Linked DNA regions of Homo sapiens. The protein of the gene in region 1 interacts with the protein of each later gene in a biochemical or structural test. Each region holds a gene or a part of one and is shown on either strand. Other genes may lie near its edges. The genes, in order: CXCL14 and GPR85.

Region 1 (10,044 bases):
GAAAGCAAACAGCCTAGCCAAGGAGACAGGACTTGGCGGTGCCTGCACAGAGGCCTAGGACTCTGCTGCAAACATGGAACAGGGCTGGTGAGAGAGGCAGGAGGTGGGGCAGAGCAGAATGAGGACAAGTGAGGCCGGATGGAGGGGCTGCTTGTTCCCCTGTGCCAAGCAGTGGGGGACAGCTCTAAAGATGGGCCTAGACCCTCACCATGGGACTCACCCAAGCCACCAACAACTCTACCTGCCTCTCTGCAGTGCCACCTGCACAGCACAGGTGCTCATCGCCCATCGCCAGCGTCTGCTCAGTGAGGCTGAAGGCTGCCCAAGCCCTCGCTGAATCAACTGCTCCTGAGTTGCTGTTATAACAAGAACATTCTGAAAAACTGGAAAGCAAGGAGAGAAGCTTTACAACAACAATGCCCAACATTTCGCCACTCAAAGAGAATGACGTTTGTAACTCTGTCTTGCCATCCTTTGTACAGAGGTTACTGTTTTGCATACTTATAATCACAGTGTTTACACAACCTTGTGTTTTTTCTACTTACTGCATAAGCATTTACTCCACAAATTTAGAGCTTTCATTGTTTTCTTAATCCCCCATTGTTGGGCATTTAGTTTAAATCTTTATTTTTAACAAGGACTAGCTTTGCATGTGGTATTTCTCCATTATGAGAATTTTAAACAGATTTCTGAAGTGGTTAATAAGATGAAATGGTTTACTTCAAACAGTCTGGATACCATACTATAAATATAACTTCCCCAAATTTTGTACCAATTGATAGTCCCATGAGTGATGCTTAAGTGATGCTTCCTCACTTTACCATTATCAGCTTTGGATGTTGCTATTTAAAATAAACATTTCCTCATTGAGTGGGACCAAAACCAAAATGCCGTGATCCTGCAGCACTGCTGTGCTTTTCCTTCATTGCCAAAGAGGATGCATGTTCTTTGATGAATTGGTTAATTGCCTTTCTTTTTCTCCTGAATTGTCCTTTGATGTCCTTTGCTCATTTATATGTTAGGGCCCTCTTCGGAAATATCTTTGCATGTGTTCTTAATATAATAAAGATGCTTGCCTGTAAGGGAGTGTTGTTGGATGAATAGATGGTGGAATAAATGCTACTTGTTGGTTTGTCATATTTGCTGCAAGCATTTTCTCCCATGTTTAGGGGAATCTTGCAGTGCCCCCTGTGACCCATCTGAGTAACAGAGCCCCCCTACATACACTCTGCCTCGGGGCTGCTTTAAGCCTAATTCAATACTGCCTGGCTGTCCCCCACATCATTTTCTCTGGGCTTAAGTTACTCAGGATCTCTAAATATTTGCAGTGTGAAGAACAAAACCAGAGGTTGTTCTTGGGAACCTTGGTCCTTCAACTTCCTTCACCCCAGAGCATGGCCAGGGAAGGGGTCAGCATGCAGGGCTGTAGCTGAAAGAAAGCTGCACAGAGGAGGCAGCTGGCTGCCCAGACTCCACAGGCTGCAGGTGAACAGACAGAGGGAGGAGCTGGAGAGGGAGAGGCACCCGCCAGGCTTGGATTCAGAGCCAGCAGCCACACAACACAATGGAAGCAGGTATTTTGGGGTGACCCACCATGTCATGAGTGGTGATGGGGCCAGACAGGTTACTGGAGCCCAGGATCTTGCTCTGGCCTAAGTAGCTAGGTACAGGACACAGAGACAGGAGGCTGGCTAACATTAATGCACAGGGAGATCTTGTATGCAGTCAACCCCATTGCTGGGCCTCAGTTTCCTCATATGTACAATGAAGGCCAGTTGTGGCCTCAGCCTCTACCAGTGCTGAATTCTAGGATTCCTGTCCTGCCAGGGAAGTAAAAAGGACTCCTCTTCTGAAAAGAAGGTCAGTCACGAAAAGAACTAAAAGAATGGGGGAAGGAATTGCCCTGGATCCCAGCTCCCAGGGCAGAAAACCAGCCTTGACCAGTCAAGACCCCTTTCTAAGCAGACCAAGGAGGTAGTGCCCAGACACCTGTGGGATTTCCTGGAAAGTCACACTCCTGTTATCACCACCTCCTCTTCCCAGAGACTTCATCTCTAAAACAAATGCCCTGAGGATGAACTGGCTTCCCTGGGAATATGGACTCCCCATGGCCACCCCTACACACACGCAAACACACACACACACACACGCACACACACTTTCTCACATGCAACCTTGTAGCCTGTGCAGCCTGGATTCAGCAGTACTCTCACATGCTGAGCTGTTGCCTGAAACATGTTTTTATTTACTCCACAGATAGGGAGTGAACCCCTGCTACATGCCAATCACTGTTGTAGATACTGAGGATGAGCAAGACAGACACCCACAGACACAGACAGATCATCCACAATGCACCCCCAAATAAATATGAAAATGTACAATTTGAGGTTGCTGCACATACAATGAATAAACTAAAATCGGTGGCAACACAGAGAGGGACTGTTGTTGGGGGTATGCTCGTGGGATTAGAACTGGATGGTGAATATTGGAGCCCAGGCTCACTGAGGAGAAGAGGGTTGCCTGTCAGCCCCTGGGGAGGAGCACTGCAGGTGGAGGGGCCAGTGAGCACAAAGACCCTGAGGTGGGAACAGGCTTGGATGTTTGAAGGTAAGACAAGGCAGAGTATCTGGAGCACAGCCTGTGGGGAGCATGGCAGGTGCTGGTCATGATTGGGTGCGCACTGCTGGGGACTTGGCTTCCACTCTGCATGAGATCGGGAGCCAGTAAAGGGTTCAGAGCAGGGACTTCCCCCAGGAGATCACTGTGTGAGCAGCAGGGACCATGAAGGGCCAGGAGTGGCCTCCCTCCTGTGGTCACTGGTTAATTCCTTTCCATCCTTCATATCTAACTCAATGGCCCTTTCCTCCAGGAATTTGTCCCCACCTCGTCACCCTGTCAGATCCCCTGATGAGTCTCCTAGCACCAACCACCCTCCAGGACACTGACCTCTGCAGGAGTTTCACACTGATCTCTGTGGTTTATAGCTAATGTCTGCCTTCCCCACTAGACTCTGAGCTGCTTGGGGACAGGCACACAGCTGCCTTGGCTCACCTCAAACCCCCAGCACCTCGTACAACGCCTGGGACACAGTGGGTGCTCAATAAATGTAAAGAGAAGAAATAAGCAAATCCCTGGGGTCTCAGCAAAATTTCCACTCCCTCAAGGAGTGATGTCCTGTTTCCACTTCCTCCCTCCTCTGTGCCCCCACACTTCACGTCTACCTCTTCTGTAGAATCCAGTATGACCATGAATGTGTTGACATCTGCACACATGCATACACACACACAGGCAAGGCATGTGTGCTGTCCTTCACTGTACCCCAGGGACCTCCTTGAAGCAGACAGTGCCACTGTACAAAGAACGGCCTCACACATGCCCACCTGCTCAGAGGCCCTCGGCTTGGGCTCACTAGACAGTCTGTGCCCTGAAGGTGTGTCAGGGGCCAAGCCCCCTCCCTCACCCAGTTAGGCAGCATCCCCCACAGACCTGCTGGCAGCAGGGGCCTCATGCTCTCCTGTACCATGGCTCCAGAAGAACTCACACAAACAAGGGCTCAGCTCTGCTTGCACAGTGGCTGCCTTCTGCAAACCAGAGATCTGCATACACAGACTGAGGAGTGTAACTGAGGACAAAACACTGGGACGTCTGACCTCTGGTCCAGCCCAAGAAGCTGGGGAACGTTGGTCCATATTTCTAGAGCCAACTACTTTTTCCTGTGAAAACTCAGTGCCCACGATCGCTGGTGTTGTTAGATCCCAGTTAATCAATCAACATATTCTTGAAACAAACATGTTAGAAATAAAATCGTTAATAAAAAATAATACTTTACATGCTCTAGGAAAGCTTGGTATTTAAGAAATTCCTTTGCAGCATAAAATATATTTTTTTGGAAAGCAATTGGCAATTTCTATGAAAAGTCTTAAAATGGGCATGTGCCATGGCCCCATGATTCTATTTCTGAGGGCTGATCCAATGTATTAAAACCTACCCCAAAATGGAGCTACAAGAATATTTGTCAAACAGCATTGGTTGTAAGAGGGTAAGGTTGAAAACAATCCAAATGTCCAGCAAGGAGTAGTCAAATTAATTCTGGTACATCTGTATGACGGAATACTCTGCAGCTAAAATCATGATAACCGCAATGGTCAGCACATATCAAACACTTACTCTGTGTTGGGGACCACATTAAAAGCATTACATGCACTATCTCATTTAATTCTGCCTATGCTGTACATATTATTATCATCTCCATCTCACAGATGAGGAAACCAATACCAAATAGAGTTAAGGTATTTGCCCAAAGTCACACAGCTAGTCCCTAGGATGCATACTCAGGCAATTTGACTCCAGACACCAGCCTCTTAGCCATTATACTACCCGGCCTCAGATGAAACCATTAAGGGAGCTATTGTTGTAGCAAGGCTAGCCACATGGAGCGATGTTCACAATATGCTAATAGGTATAGCAAGCAGGTTATTAAAGACTACATGCAGCCTGATCCCATGTGTACATGTGCACACAAAGCAAAAAGAGGATGCTTTGGGAAGATTTCACCCAAGATTTTACTTGCGTGAAAATGTTAGTTTTCTTCTGCTTGGGTTTTCTGATTTTTCTGGGCAAACGTGTTGTTTCTATATTTTAAAAAATTATTTTTAGAGTTAAAAACTAACATAAATGCCAAAAGTCACTCCCTCATACTCATCTCATGCATAAATGCAAATGTCCAGCTATTGGCTTTGCTTTAGGTATAGGCACAACAGCACGCATAGGCGCTGCTTGCTTTTCATGGCTCAGCTTCTTCTTGAAGCAGCAAGGGCTCTCCAGTTGGGAAGAGACGACACAGATTCTTCCCATTGCACCCTTCAGCAGACTGTCCCCATCATCCAGAAGCCCTCTGGGCATTTTTGCCTCCAGGGAACTGCCAGGCTGATGGCATAGAGCTGGGTGAGCTCTCTCCTGACAGCCAAGCCCAGGGACTCCAAGAGCTTGAGATGATCCACCTCCTGTCTCTGGGTCTCTCAAGGCAGCAAGAAGTGAAGGGCAGACAGGCCTCAAAGCAACAGAGTGGTCCAGGGACAGGAGTCCCAGTTCTGCAGCCGTATATACTGAGGACCCTCCTGGCCTAGTCACCTGCTTCCTAGCTCTGTGACCTTGGACAAGTTATTTCTTCTCTCAGAGCATGTTTCCACACCTGTCAAATAAAGAAATTAAAAGTACCAACTTGGAAGAAAAGTACCAATTGGTAAGAATCAAAGTAATAGATAAATTAGACATAAAACGATGGTGCCAATAAGTAACATTTCCTGGGTACTGACAACATGTATGATTTCTATAGTTCTCACAGCCACCCTATCAGAAACACTGTGATGATCTGCACTTTACAGATGATGAAACAAAAGCTGAGAGCGGTAAAGTCACTTGTGCTGGAAAGTAGTGAGGAGGGAATTTCTGCCACTATGGCTGGGCTCACACCACTATACCTCGCATTCTGGCACAATGTCTAGAACATGGGAAGGCCTTCATCCAGATGGTTACCACTGTCATCGCTCTCCACTAGGGCTCTCTACCTGGCTTTGGAGAGTAGTGTGAGAGTGAGGACTCCTCCTGGTTCTCCCCACCACCCAGACACTCACACAGCCACCAGGCCACTGACCCACTTTAAGGAGCTTTCCTTTGGGAGTCACCAAAACTCCTCCCCAATACCCGTCCCCACCCCCGCATACACACACATACCCTCTTTGAGTCAGTTCCAGTGATCACAGTCAATGACTTTGCTGCTGGACAGTCTATGACAAGCCCCTGTCCAGAACTGGCCTTGTGTTCTGGCCCAGCAGGGGCCCTTGGGGGTCAGGCCTGCAGGCACTCACACTTGGCACCTGCTCCAAAACCCTTTCAGGTCTTTGAGGATCTGAGCCCTGGGCCTGGGTCTCCCGCCGGCTCGGAAAAGCTGGCCTGCCGGGCCAGAGAGAGAACCACACGATTCAGAAAAGCAGTGCCCTTCAGCAGCCTCTCCACCGTCTGGGCTCCCCAAAGGCAGAGCGGGACGCTGGAAATGTGTGCGCGCTGTGGTATGGGTGTGCAAGTGTGCGAAGGCGGCGTGTTGTGTGAGCGAGAGGGTAGCGGATGTGTGTGTGCGTGTGCGCGCGTGGCTCCGGGTGTGCGCCGCTGCGATAGCGGGTCCTTTCCCGGGGCGGGCGACGGGCGGGCTGGGAAGGTCTCCTCCCCTCACCACATTGAGAAATCTCAGTGAGTCACCGAGTGGTTCTGCATATTAATGAGCTCGCTCGCTGCGAGGGCAGGAGCGGATTTAAAAGAGGCCAGGGCGGGCGGAGGGAGGCTGTGGAGAGAGCGCGGAGACAAGCGCAGAGCGCAGCGCACGGCCACAGACAGCCCTGGGCATCCACCGACGGCGCAGCCGGAGCCAGCAGAGCCGGAAGGCGCGCCCCGGGCAGAGAAAGCCGAGCAGAGCTGGGTGGCGTCTCCGGGCCGCCGCTCCGACGGGCCAGCGCCCTCCCCATGTCCCTGCTCCCACGCCGCGCCCCTCCGGTCAGCATGAGGCTCCTGGCGGCCGCGCTGCTCCTGCTGCTGCTGGCGCTGTACACCGCGCGTGTGGACGGTGAGTGCGGGGAGCTCCCCTTGTCGCCGTCTCGTCTTGTCCTGTCCTGGGGAACCCAAGCGCCAATTTCTAGGCATCCTGGGATCCCGCGGGGGGTGGTCTGGGTGGGCACCAAGGTGGTCGAGGGGCAGGAGACCGCCTAGCAACTAAGCCGTTGCCCCGCGCTCGCTCGCAGGGTCCAAATGCAAGTGCTCCCGGAAGGGACCCAAGATCCGCTACAGCGACGTGAAGAAGCTGGAAATGAAGCCAAAGTACCCGCACTGCGAGGAGAAGATGGTTATGTGAGTTCTCGCTCCTCACCTTGAGGGGGTGCGCACTGCTGTCAACCCAATGCCAGGGCACAGCCTGGGCCTGGGTCGGGCTAACAAACATTTCTCTCCGACTTTGTCAAGGCCCTGGAAAAGCCTTTGTAATTGCCCAGAGAGTCCTTAGGACGCTGGCGAGACACTCTGGAAGACAGTCGGGAAGGGGGGTCACTGTCCCGCTCCGGAACAGCGCCTCCAAGTTCACCCTTGCTAGGATTCAAATGAGCAGTCTCCCTATTTGTACCATGGGCCACCCACTCTGCTAGGGCCATCAAGGGTTAAAGGGTTCCCTTGTGCCAACTCAGAAAACCTAGACTGAAATCACTTAAAACACACTCACACCCAAACTGTGAGGCGTGCTGCCTTCCTGTCACTGGATAGAGGACTAATGCAAACACTATCTTAAATCCTGAGTCTCCTTCAGAGCCTTGTTCCAGTCAGAGACAAGTGGACCGCAAGTTTTTGGCTCCTAGAGATTTTATTTTGAGAACGCTCCACGAGCTTCCCTCACCGACTGTACTCCTTGTGGGTCCCCAATACGGAGCAGTACTGCAGAAAGTGCTCTGCTGGGGTTAATGTGCCACATGGCTGGAGCCCTGCTTGGTGGGGATGTGGGGAATGTTGGAAAAACTGGGGCAGAGTGAGAGAACACTTAGTTTCTTGCTCCTCCGCCTTCCCAATTAACCACTTGAGGCCAGCACCGCTGCCTCCTCATCAATATGCTCTTGGCCAGGAAGGGAGCCCTTGGCAAAGCGGCTACCAAATATTTGCCACAGACCATTGGCCCCTCTTCCCCTCCCCCAGAAACAGGACGCACTTTATTCTCAGTCTGGGCAAGTGCCCTCCACCAGCTGGCCCCCACCGGCGCAAAGGCCTTCACAGTGTCTGCGAAAGCAGTGCACACCCCTACCCAGCACCCCCCATCCCCGTCTAGGGGCTACACTGTCAGGCTGAAATTAGGGGAATTCAGAAATCCACTGGAACTGAGCTGACCCCACTGCCTTCCTTCACAGACACCTAAATTAACTTGCTTGTCCCTACCCCTTGCCTTGCAGACCAAATTCAAAGAAAATACCCAAAAATCCTTTTGGGTGGGGGCCAAGTGTCAAATGAGCTGGGAAAGGAGCTCCAAGCTCCTCAGGGCTTCCAGTTTGGGGGCTAAGAATGACAGGGGAATTCCAAGTTAAATCTCACTCGTCTAAGAGCTGAAAACCACTCTATTAACCAAACAAGTTTCTGAGACCTTGCAGGGGAAGAAAGCAGGGTAAAGGATGCAGTGATACCTAAAAAGGACAGAGCCCTCAGTAAATAGGCTTGCTCTTTTCCTGGCTAAACTTTTCCACATATAGAGAAAAACTATAGCTAGGCAAGTGTGAGAAAGGCTTTACGGAGCCTTGTAGAAACGTGCAGGGGCCTCAGGAGATCAGCACACAATCCAATCACCCTCTACTAAACCTCTAACCCACCCCCTAGGGCCTCCCACTCCATCCCTGAGGGCTGGGGGCTCCTCTCCCCCTCCACAATCCTAAAACTCTCCAAATCAGATGAGGGGCCAGCACTTTTGCAAAGCAGGTTTTCAGCCACAAAGGCTGAACAAAAGCAAATTTTCCAGCTTACCCTGAGTCACCCAGAAATCTCTGCTGAGGCTGGGGGTGGGGGCAGGAGTAGGGGCGGGGGGAGAGGTCCGCTTTGCAAGTGGGAGTCCTTGCACCCAGAAGGATCCAGGAGAGTCCGAATTCTAGAAAGAGCAATTTGTGTCATAGGTCCATGGAGCTCTCACCAAAACCCTTACCCCCACCGCCAGAACTGTGGAGGAGAGGGTCACAGGACTCAGAATTTCTGATAGTTGCTGGAGTCACAAATCCCTATGTCTGCACTCCACAACCGATTTTCATAATCCCAGTATTATGACGTGGCATTTGAGCACTGTAGTGAGAGGGCTGAGTGACCCTTCCTGCTCTCCCTTCCTGCTCTCCCTGACCTTCAGGATTTGGGATGCACAGCCTGCACACTGACCTAACTGAGAAAGGGTTTTTATCAGGCATTACCACGTCCTTTCCTTCAGAATGCTAAAGCAGCCTTGTAGGCAGAAAGAGAAAAGCATTTGCTAAATTCCTGCAGGGTGACTGGGCACAGTGGGGGAGAGAGACAACCAGAGTTCACTCTGAAGCCTGGCCTGTGCTCAAGGCTAGAGGAATGACCCGGAGTCACAGAGGAGTCCAGTCAAGGCAGGCACCATCACCTGGCATCAGCAGGAAGACCCGCCCCTGCCCCAAGGAGCTTAGGCCCTAGCAGGGACCCCAGAAACCCAGAGCACGGAGAAGGGAAGAGAACAGGTTGCCTAGGAACATTATGCCCCCATTCTGGTGGCAAGATCCGATTTTCTTTCCCCATCAACTGGGAGACTGAAGTAATGGGAATCCTGTCCCTTCTAGAACTTAGCCCATATAAGCCATGACATTTTCCATTTGGTTAACAGTGGGGAACTAGCTGACCTCTGTCCCTCTCTTCTCACTCTTTCCACTCTCACTTCCAGTCTCCCCCTTTGCCCTCCAAGCCCATTCCAGCACCCCAGTCTACCATCATGGCTTGCATGGCTGTGACCCCTCAAGAAGTGGCATCCTCACCTCTCACCTTGCACTTTTCCAAATACCCTAGGTGGTCTCTTATTCCCCACAACTCCTGTCATGCCTGTGGCCTAGAGGTGCTCAGAAGTTCTGAGCAGCAGGCTTGCCTCGCCCTCCAGGCTGGAGCCCCCACAGCAAGGCTACTCTTTCCCCTTGGCCACTTCATCTTCCATGACCAATGACTAGTAACAGTAACTGTTAATTGTGCATCTACCAGGTCCTGGGTACTTTCTAAAGATTGTATCTTTTAATCATCCCAATAACCCTGTGAGATAGTCCTATTATTATACCCATTTTACAGATGGCCAAACTGGATTCAGAGAGGTTACCCAAGGTCCCACAGCCAAATTTGAGATTCAGTCCCAGGCCCTTACAGTCTGCACAACACCTGCTTCTCTACCACATGGCTAGGCTTCTGCTGGGTGTTGGGACATTGGCTGATAGAGGCCTGAGATCTTCAGGCTGTGCAGAAGAGAGGTCTTACTCTTCTGCTTAG
Region 2 (11,115 bases), on another chromosome or scaffold:
CATGCTCATAATAATGGTCCTAATGCACTGTATGACTGAGATAACCTCTGAATAGTCAAAGAAAAAATACTTCATACTTCTAGAGTTTTAAAAATTATATTGCATTTTTATTTCATGAAAATTTACAATGCATGTAAGATATGTGTGACTCTCCATTAACCTCAATATTAAATTAACTTCCTATTTCTTAATTATTTTACCAACACTTGCTTCTTCTTCCCACCTACCCTTCCAATACATTCACATGCACACACATTCACACCCATGACATACCCATGTGGGGGTCACTTTTTTGTTTTACATGGTTGAGGCTAACCGCATCTTAAAAAAAAAAAAGGCAAAGCTGAATGAGACAATTTAGAATATTTTAACAGAAAAAGGGCTTTTCCTCTAAGCTCTAAAGTTTTACCAGGCACTAGTAGGAAAACTTGCATTTGCTCTTCTCATTCACAGGGTCACATTTCAGTAATGTGTAATATAAAAAGAGCTTAAAGACTTCCAGAAGAAGAAACCATGCTGTATTTATTTAAATAACCATCACTTTGTTCATAAAACATCAAGAGAATTCACTCAAACCTTTATCACTGAGACAGTGCTGTCATTAATGACAAAATAGTTTCTTAGCCTGACCTCATAAGCCTTTAAGCCTGTGTCCCTCACTTGTTAATCCCTTATAGTCTGACTTTCTCTTCTGAAACTGCTTTCTCAAAGATTGCTAATGATTTTCATCATCCCCAGATCCAAGGATATCTTCTTATGTGTTTTTCTTCTAAATCTCCGAGTCACAACTGACACTGATGACCACTCCTTCTTTGAAATTCTCTCCTCCCTCAGGGTCTATAACATAGATGATCCTCCTCTTTTGGTTTGTTTTATGTCTGGTTCTTCCATGATCTTCCTGTTTCTTATATGTAGGCATTCTCTTTGTTTTTTGGTTTGTTCAGATGGAGGGGAATGGGCATACTTGTTTATCTATTTAACCTCAACCTTCTTCTCTCTCAGCAATCTCTCCCTTGGCAATGCCGCCCAATAGTTTCTCTATAAGTACTTTCTGAATTTGGGCTCTTCACTTCCAACTAAGTATAACACATCAACATTTGAATATTCCACCAGCATTTCACATTCAGCATGTCTAAAATTAACTCACTCTTTTCCTTACCAAACCAGCTCCTTCCTTTTTAACTTTTGTTTCCTCTGGTTAATGGTGTCTTCTGCCTCCCAGTTCTTCTCCAAGTTCCAAACCTGAGAGTCTGTTCTTACCCCTTGATCTCCTTTGCTTCCCTGAGCCAATTACTCCATAAGAAATATGGCTCCTCTTACTTTGCTTCTCTTCATTTTTCCTGCTCCACTTCCATCAGTTCAGGCTTTCCCTACTGTGACGTGTCCACCTGTAAACTGGTCCTACCTCCCGATTTCTTATTTCTTGCAAGGTCTAGCACAGTGCCTCATACAGAGTAGGAGGAGCTCAAGAAATATTTGTTAAATAAATTGAACAAAGGAACAAGTCTTAAAGTTTTCTGAGAGGAGGAAATTGTCAACATAAAGGGAAGAAGAAAAGGCAAACTGCTGAGTTTTCAAAAGCCTGGCAGTTAACTTTAAAATTAAAAATGAATTACATTAACACTTTGGAACCTGTTATGGGGCAGAGCAGAGAGAAAAGTCTAACAAATGAACCTTCTAGCATTTTGGAAAGAAACATGCCAGATTTTTAATCTTTTAAAAACTCATTAACATTCTGAAAAAATTTCACTGTTTGGGATGTTCACAATTATAGTTATTCCCAACTCCCAAGTCATGATTTGTCTAGCATATTATTTCACCATTCTGCTCCTCAAAGAGATGAATATAATGCCCTAAAAACTTTCAGTTACTTAGATGTCACTGTGAAAAAGGTCACTTTCTGCAGCAATTAAGATGTGAAAACCATTATCAACTAAGACATGAAAACCATTATCAAAAAAGGGAGATGTATAATCTCTCTTTCTATTGGTCACTTATTCCAGGTTGGTGATTTTTTTTTAAATAATCAATCAGAAAGTGTTTCTGTGCAAAAACCCCCAATGAGAGCCTTTCTTACCAAGATAGCTAAAGTTTTTTTTTTCCCAGTCTTTTTTTTTTTTTTAATTATACTTTACGTTTTAGGGTACATGTGCACAATGTGCAGGTTAGTTACATATGCATACATGTGCCATGCTGGTGTGCTGCACCCATTAACTCATCATTTAGCATTAGGTATATCTCCTAAAGCTATCCCTCCCCCCTCCCCCCACCCCACAACAGTCCCCAGAGTGTGATGTTCCCCTTCCTGTGTCCATGTGTTCTCATTGTTCAATTCCCACCTGTGAGTGAGAATATGTGGTGTTTGGTTTTTTGTTCTTGTGATAGTTTACTGAGAATGATGATTTCCAATTTCATTCATGTCCCTACAAAGGACATGAACTCATCATTTTTTATGGCTGCATAGTATTCCATGGTGTATATGTGCCACATTTTCTAAATCCAGTCTATCATTGTTGGACATTTGGGTTGGTTCCAAGTCTTTGCTATTGTGAATAGTGCCGCAATAAACATACATGTGCATGTGTCTTTATAGCAGCATGATTTATAGTCCTTTGGGTATATACCCAGTAATGGGATGGCTGGGTCAAATGGTATTTCTAGTTCTAGATCCCTGAGGAATCACCACACTGACTTGCACAATGGTTGAACTAGTTTACAGTCCCACCAACAGTGTAAAAGTGTTCCTGTTTCTCCACATCCTCTCCAGCACCTGTTGTTTCCTGACTTTTTAATGATTGCCATTCGAACTGGTGTGAGATGGTATCTCATTGTGGTTTTGATTTGCATTTCTCTGATGGCCAATGATGGTGAGCATTTTTTCATGTGTTTTTTGGCTACATAAATGTCTTCTTTTGAGAAGCGTCTGTTCATGCAAAAACTGGAAGCATTCCCTTTGAAAACTGGCACAAGACAGGGATGCCCTCTCTCACCACTCCTATTCAACATAGTGTTGGAAGTTCTGGCCAGGGCAATTAGGCAGGAGAAGGAAATAAAGGGTATTCAATTAGGAAAAGAGGAAGTCAAATTGTCCCTGTCTGCAGATGACATGATTGTATATCTAAAAAACCCCACTGTCACAGCCCAAAATCTCCTTAAGCTGATAAGCAACTTCAGCAAAGTCTCAGGATACAAAATCAATGTACAAAAATCACAAGCATTCTTATACATAAATAACAGACAAACAGAGAGCCAAATCATGAGTGAACTCCCATTCACAATTGCTTCAAAGAGAATAAAATACCTAGGAATCCAACTTACAAGGGATGTGAAGGACCTCTTCAAGGAGAAGTACAAACCACTGTTCAATGAAATAAAAGAGGATACAAAGAAATGGAAGAGCATTCCATGCTCATGGGTAGGAAGAATCAATATCATGAAAATGACCATACTGCCCAAGGTAATTTATAGATTCAATGCCATCCCCATCAAGCTACCAATGACTTTCTTCACAGAATTGGAAAAAACTACTTTAAAGTTCATATGGAACCAAAAAAGAGCCCGCATCGCCAAGTCAATCCTAAGCCGAAAGAACAAAGTTGGAGGCATCAAGCTACCTGACTTCAAACTATACTACAAGGCTACAGTAACCAAAACAGCATGGTACTGGTACCAAAACAGAGATATAGATCAATGGAACAGAACAGACGCCTCAGAAATAACGCCGCATATCTACAACTATCTGATCTTTGACAAACCTAAGAAAAACAAGCAATGGGAAAAGGATTCTCTATTTAATAAATGGTGCTGGGAAAACTGACCAGCCATATGTAGAAAGCTGAAACTGGATCCCTTCCTTACACCTTATACAAAAATTAATTCAAGATGGATTAAAGACTTAAACGTTAGACCGAAAACCATAAAAACCCTAGAAGAAAACCTAGGCAATACCATTCAGGACATAGGCATGGGCAAGGACTTCATGTCTAAAACACCAAAAGCAATGGCAACAAAAGCCAAAATTGACAAATGGGATCTAGTTAAACTAAAGAGCTTCTGCACAGCAAAAGACACTACCATCAGAGTGAACAGGCAACCTACAAAATGGGAGAAAATTTTCGCAACCTACTCATCTGACAAAGGGCTAATATCCAGAATCTACAATGAGCTCAAACAAATTTACAAGAAAAAAACAAACAACCCCATCAAAAAGATAGTTAAAGTTTTAAAGAAAACTTTAAAAAGGCTCTTTTTCATATACAACTTTAAATTTTGGTAACAGTTGAGAGCACCAAAGACACACGTTTTATGCTTTAAGCAGAAGACATGTCATTTGAAATGAATTACTAAAAATCTTTTATTTAGAATGTTTATTCTAGTCTATTATTCTCTGCAATTACCAAGTGTTATTTCCTGACACACACTTTCATGTAAACAATGCACAGAAAAAAACACTGTTTTTGCTGATCATGATACTATGCATCAGTTGGCAAAAATCTGAAATAGATTAATTTTGAAAGCAAGGTCATTGGTTTTTAAAATAAAATGGTATGTACTTTTTATAAGAACCAAATTAAGCAAATTATATCAGTTTTCCTAATACACTGATCAATATAGTACATGTAATATTCCAACAGTTTGTAAATCTTCAGAACCCTTCAAACCCAAGGATTAGAGCATATAGTTTTGTTGTATTTGCTTTGTTCTTTTACTCTTAACCTGAAAATCAAATTTTCTGGGTTTGGTGATGTAGGGGATAAAAAAAAAAGAAATTAGTTAAGACCAACTAAGCCTATGATCTAAACAATTTGAAGCAATAACTTTACATTTGAGAACTTGTAGATGATATGAAACTTTTGTCAGCTATTAAACATATTTTTTAAAGCCCTGCTGATGAAAGATGTAGCTTCCAATGTTTTCTCCAGTAGAGTTAATGAGCTAGATAGAAAATATCTCATTAATTTCTTGAGTCCCCTTGTGAGGCAAGAAAATGACATTCTTATCCAACAGCTGGAAAAGCTGAAGAATTAGTGGATGTAACTGTGCTCAACTGCAAAGGAAAAAAATAGCTTTACTATACCCTGAGATGTGGATATGAAAGAATATTGCATACACATATACCCTCTCCCTTATTTTTAAGGAATCAATATCTGCTTAAAGAATAAGACTAGTTAAAACCCTTGGATCTTGGCCCTATAACTTTTGGCAGAGTATATTACTGCTTCATGGCCTGGCAGTGCAGTGACTCTTTTAATTTACTTTAAAATAGCTTTTCCCTAATCTGTACAACCTAACATCTGACCAATCATGAATCTTCAGCAAACTTAAGCCTCTTATTCCATACATTTTTTAAAACTGTAAAAATTCAGGAAATAACTCTTTGCAAAGTACATTGAAGCATTTATTGGGAAGCAAAAAAGCACAAGTTGAAGTGATTTGTAGTTTCATAAAAACGAATTTGACATTTTACTTAGAAGTTGCAAACCACCACATGGTTTTGAGTTTTGAATTCATTTGCTTTGCAAAAAGTGGAATGTTTTATTTGAATGGAAATGCCCTCAAGTTACTTCCAGCATGGCTGTAGGATTGATTTTTCTAGGTTAAGGGAATGCCAAAGTTTAGTGCCTTGTGTATATTCTTTTCGAAAAAAACAAACTATTATCCATGTATTTAAATGGACGTAGGAAATTCAAGAACAAATCAGGGAAATTTAACATCATTTCAGTATTACCAACATAGGGCTTTGTGTAACGACTGTGACATCAAGATAAGGCTTTACCTCGGCTCATCCAATAGAAATACAGTATGTAAATTAACCCATATTATCTGTATGCTGATTGGCCTGAGTTCCCCTGAATGTCACAATCTCACCACCCAGCAATGAGGTATTTTACTGCTGTCTCAAGATCAGATTATTACTGTAGAGAAGATTTTTATTTTTTGTTTCATTAACAGATTATTATAAAGCAAAAAGCATGCAGAAAAAGAAGCAGACGTTTTACATTGGGAATTAATGAAAGCGTGTCTGCTAGTTTTGGGTAGGAGAACTGGGAAGTTGTTGCTTAAAATTTTATATCACCTCCACAAACAAAACTCTTCGGAAATGGTAAAATAAGAAAATGCATGATTCTAGAGGCATTCCTAAGCACCCACGTGTCAGGCTTTGTGGTGTCTGTGGTATCATCCGACCGTTTGGACTGGTGTAAGTTTTACGTATTTGTTATATTTCTAGTATTTTTCATCTGTAATAACAAAGGGGAAAAAAGGAAACTCGTACACATAACTGCTTTGACATCACCCATCATTGGTCAGCGGAACTTGTAAGAAGGGAAAAGGAATACTGTTGCTTGGTGGGGTGGAATGCCAGGAATAGCCATTTAAACATTTTATAAGCCTGATTCTTTAGTGACATCCTTTAAGGTAGACTGAATGTAAATCATATTGTAGTTGTCCTCTGAACTTAGCTTTCTCCCTACTTTTACGCATATTTGCGTGCATTGGAGAATAGAAGATGACTAACAAAGAGAGAGCTGCCCTAACGTGCCTTCCCTTCTTCCCCATTGAAAAGATTTTTAACTGTGGGAAAAAGATAAATAAATAAATAAATAACTTTTTTTCTTTTTTCCCATTCTTTTCTTGTCTTTTTCCAGCTAACCTGCAAATTTAAAGGTTAGCTGGAGACATCACTTAAAAATAAATATATAAAAGAAGCCTCCGGTGGTTTGGACCACCCTAAAAGAAAAGGGAAGAAAGTGTCTGGGGAAGGTTAGGGTTCCGGGAAGCTGAGGGAGGGGGCGGGCGTCACGGGCACTGTGACTTCCTCGTGCGCTGCCTTTGGGAAGAGGATGGGCCTGAGGTCCTGAAAGGGCCTTTCCAGCCCCCCACTACAAATGCGGGGAGGGAAAAGTTCAGAAGCAGCCACGAAGGGACAAAAGCTTAATGCTGCCAGTTGGATTGGACAGGGCAGTCAATAAACCCAGCCAGCTCTGGAGTCAGGTAGGGGTTCCTGCTGGTTCCACAGAGGCTGAAGCAGCCCCGCCGCCGCCCTCGCCACCGCAGCCGCCGCCGCCGCGGCCCCTGCGTTACTGGGGGAGACGGTGCCGCTGCGACAGGGGAGGACGCGGCTGGAGCTCAAGGAGGCTCCAGCGCGCAGGCGCCGCCGAGCCCTGCCTGGATGCTCAGTCAAGGCACTAAGGCAAAAAAAAAAAAAAAAAAAACAAAAAACAAAAAAAAAAAAAAAAAAAAGAAAAAGAAAAAAAGAAAAAAATCAGCAATTTATAGAAAGAAGCTATAGTCTGTCGGGATATCCAACACCAACAGGTAGGAGGATATACTCTTGGTTAAGTTTGGGGGATGTGGGGGAATGCACAGTGTTGATGAAACTGCAGGTTCACCGAGAAAGAGCCCTCCCTCAGGTTGTGTGTGTGTGTGTGTGTGTGTGTGTCTCTGTGTGTGTGTGTGTGTGTGTGTGTGTATGTGTTTTGTGACAATAAACTGCATAATGGAAGTACATTCAGACAATGCATCTTCAGTAGGGCTTACTGAGAGCTCCATTTCTGGAAAGCCTTACAAGACTGAGGAATATCAGACTGCGAATCACCGGGAACGGTTCCTTTGCAGCACAGAAGCAATCTCTCTCCCCATCTTCGCGTATGTAATGCATGTCTCTCTCCCTCTCCCCCTCCTCCACCCTCCCCCCATTATAAATCCAGGGGTGGCGGATTTCAGGTTTCGTAATGTTGCATGATGCGATCGGTATTTACCCGAGGATGTACCGGTGGGGAAATTAAAATCATCGAACGCAGTTTTGCCTGGGCTTCCACCAGCATATTCCGGGCCAGTGAGAAGTGGCAAAAGAAACACGCTTGGTGGGAATAACAGAGGAAGCCGATTTCCCTGGTGTGGTCCAGGCACCTGCGAGACAATGTGCATTTTGTTTTAAAAAGCAGCCACTTGTGATTTGCAACAAAGGTTATCAGTGTAAATGGGAAAGGCTTAATTGCCCAAGAAATACAGGTTCATGTTATATTCATTTGAATCCAGGCAGCCAAGGTTTACAAATGGAAGTGCATTATTCCTCTGGGTGTGTTTCCCTGTCCAATATTTACATTAACCATTTTAATAATCATGTGGGCTTAAAAGATTTGCCAGAAATGGGGGGTAGGGTGGAGAGGGAAAGACAAATGATTAAATCACATCAAATCTTGGGACAAGTAAGTTCCTATTAATTTTGAAGTTAATTTTGAAATTTTGCTTTAAGATGAATCAACAAATACTCTTATGCAGCATGAATAGTGGCACTTAAGATATATTTTGCACGGGTTCTTTGGACCCACATCAAACAGAGAAGCTGCCTGTGAAACACTGACAGATACTAATAGATCTCAAATAAATGTAGGTAGTGTCTCTGCCTCCTAATAGCAATCTTGTAGATTCCATTGCAATTCTAGTGGTTAATTCCTGGACTGGCATATTTTACAAGAATGGGACATTTTATTCCTTCTCTCCTAAAGTTACCCTATCAAATGTATATTGTCCAAAATAGGGACATTTTAAAATTCACTTAGCTTGAAAAACTAAACAAGCCAATTCTCTGAAATCTCGAGCAAAAATATTTAGTAAAGCAAATATTAGTATTCAAAATTAAAACTTTATTTGCTTCCCCATAAGTGAACAGCTTTGTTAGCACTGTCTGACATCATTGCTTGTTAACTTAAGAACTGATAGGTTTTTTTTTTTTTTTTTTTCAGATATTCTGATGGCAAAACAAGTGGAAGAAAAGAGGAAGCATGACTGCAGATCAGATCAGTTCTCTTTGTGGATTATATTTTCAGTAAAATGTATGGATCTATCTTTTCCTTGTTCTTATATCTAGATCATGAGACTTGACTGAGGCTGTATCCTTATCCTCCATCCATCTATGGCGAACTATAGCCATGCAGCTGACAACATTTTGCAAAATCTCTCGCCTCTAACAGCCTTTCTGAAACTGACTTCCTTGGGTTTCATAATAGGAGTCAGCGTGGTGGGCAACCTCCTGATCTCCATTTTGCTAGTGAAAGATAAGACCTTGCATAGAGCACCTTACTACTTCCTGTTGGATCTTTGCTGTTCAGATATCCTCAGATCTGCAATTTGTTTCCCATTTGTGTTCAACTCTGTCAAAAATGGTTCTACCTGGACTTATGGGACTCTGACTTGCAAAGTGATTGCCTTTCTGGGGGTTTTGTCCTGTTTCCACACTGCTTTCATGCTCTTCTGCATCAGTGTCACCAGATATTTAGCTATCGCCCATCACCGCTTCTATACAAAGAGGCTGACCTTTTGGACGTGTCTGGCTGTGATCTGTATGGTGTGGACTCTGTCTGTGGCCATGGCATTTCCCCCGGTTTTAGACGTGGGCACTTACTCATTCATTAGGGAGGAAGATCAATGCACCTTCCAACACCGCTCCTTCAGGGCTAATGATTCCTTAGGATTTATGCTGCTTCTTGCTCTCATCCTCCTAGCCACACAGCTTGTCTACCTCAAGCTGATATTTTTCGTCCACGATCGAAGAAAAATGAAGCCAGTCCAGTTTGTAGCAGCAGTCAGCCAGAACTGGACTTTTCATGGTCCTGGAGCCAGTGGCCAGGCAGCTGCCAATTGGCTAGCAGGATTTGGAAGGGGTCCCACACCACCCACCTTGCTGGGCATCAGGCAAAATGCAAACACCACAGGCAGAAGAAGGCTATTGGTCTTAGACGAGTTCAAAATGGAGAAAAGAATCAGCAGAATGTTCTATATAATGACTTTTCTGTTTCTAACCTTGTGGGGCCCCTACCTGGTGGCCTGTTATTGGAGAGTTTTTGCAAGAGGGCCTGTAGTACCAGGGGGATTTCTAACAGCTGCTGTCTGGATGAGTTTTGCCCAAGCAGGAATCAATCCTTTTGTCTGCATTTTCTCAAACAGGGAGCTGAGGCGCTGTTTCAGCACAACCCTTCTTTACTGCAGAAAATCCAGGTTACCAAGGGAACCTTACTGTGTTATATGAGGGAGCATCTGTAAATCTTTAGCCTTGTGAAAACTAACCTTCTCTGCTGAGCAATTGTGGCCCATAGCCATATTTTGAGAAGAAATTCAAGAATGGAATCAGCAGTTTTAAGGATTTGGGCAACATTCTGCAGTCTTTGCAATAGTTCACCTATAATCCTATTTTAAATCTCAGAGTGATCCTGCTGACTGCCAGCAAAGGTTTGTAATTAAGAAGGGACTGAACCACTGCCCTAAGTTTCTTTATGTGGTCAAAAACTAGATAATGAAAGTAGCAGGTGCTAAGTATCAGTGCTAAATGCTCTGTATGTCACTACATATGAAAAAACATCAAAAAACAATTAGCATTGGACATCTTAATAAATTAAGTTGACATGAGGTAAATGTGTTGATAAAAACTAATTTTAGAAGTTTGAAGACTTTAAAACATTTCATACTACTATTGTTTTGCAAAGACTAAAATATTTGGGGACTTAAAGTACTGTAATCCACTAAAGACGTGCCAATGAATTATTGGAATATCACACTTTAAAAACCGCCTTGTAAGTTCTGGGGAGCATTCCAAAGCAGTATATTGGTTCCAATTAGAGTTTACTTTTTTTGTATTAATACATTGCTATTTCTAAATACCACTTTCCTCATCTACTAGTAAGATTGCTAGCATTGAACTGTATTATGTGGTTTTTGTTGATTTGGTATAAAGTTTTTCCAATTCATTTATATTTTACAAATGCTAGATATTGGTCTGGGAGGCAACATTAATGGTACCAGCCTGTCACAACTGAGCAGTTCTAATAATGCAGAATAAATACATGTTGCCTTAAAGGGTTATCTAGTATCCTTCATCTTATTTAGCACTGGAGCAAATAGCCAAGGGAAATCAAATCAGTAACTGGTCATGGTCATGCATCTAAAAGTGCATGGAAGATCATTTATTACTTTTTCCTTTTTTCTCACATGGTTTGAAACTTAAAGTGCACATCACTGAAATAATGAGATTTTCTTCTACGGTGTGCTACCCTTTCTAAACTGTTCTAAGAAGCAGGCAGTTGATGTATGTTTATATTTTAAGTCAGCTGTCAAGGG

Evidence for each region.
Region 2: the proteins of CXCL14 (region 1) and GPR85 form a complex in vitro, tested with the Homo sapiens proteins (one study listed by BioGRID).

Annotation. Positions count from the first base shown.
Region 1 is NC_000005.10:135,575,287-135,585,330, reverse strand, and holds the start of CXCL14 (C-X-C motif chemokine 14 precursor), read left to right. Parts: upstream 1-6,339; 5' UTR 6,340-6,552; coding exon 6,553-6,616; intron 6,617-6,791; coding exon 6,792-6,897; intron 6,898-10,044. UniProt on the Homo sapiens protein: Potent chemoattractant for neutrophils, and weaker for dendritic cells. Not chemotactic for T-cells, B-cells, monocytes, natural killer cells or granulocytes. Does not inhibit proliferation of myeloid progenitors in colony formation assays.
Region 2 is NC_000007.14:113,082,524-113,093,638, reverse strand, and holds the start of GPR85 (probable G-protein coupled receptor 85), read left to right. Parts: upstream 1-6,811; 5' UTR 6,812-7,317; intron 7,318-7,471; exon of another isoform or gene 7,472-7,529; 5' UTR 7,530-7,647; intron 7,648-8,747; 5' UTR 8,748-8,917; coding exon 8,918-10,030; 3' UTR 10,031-11,115. UniProt on the Homo sapiens protein: Orphan receptor.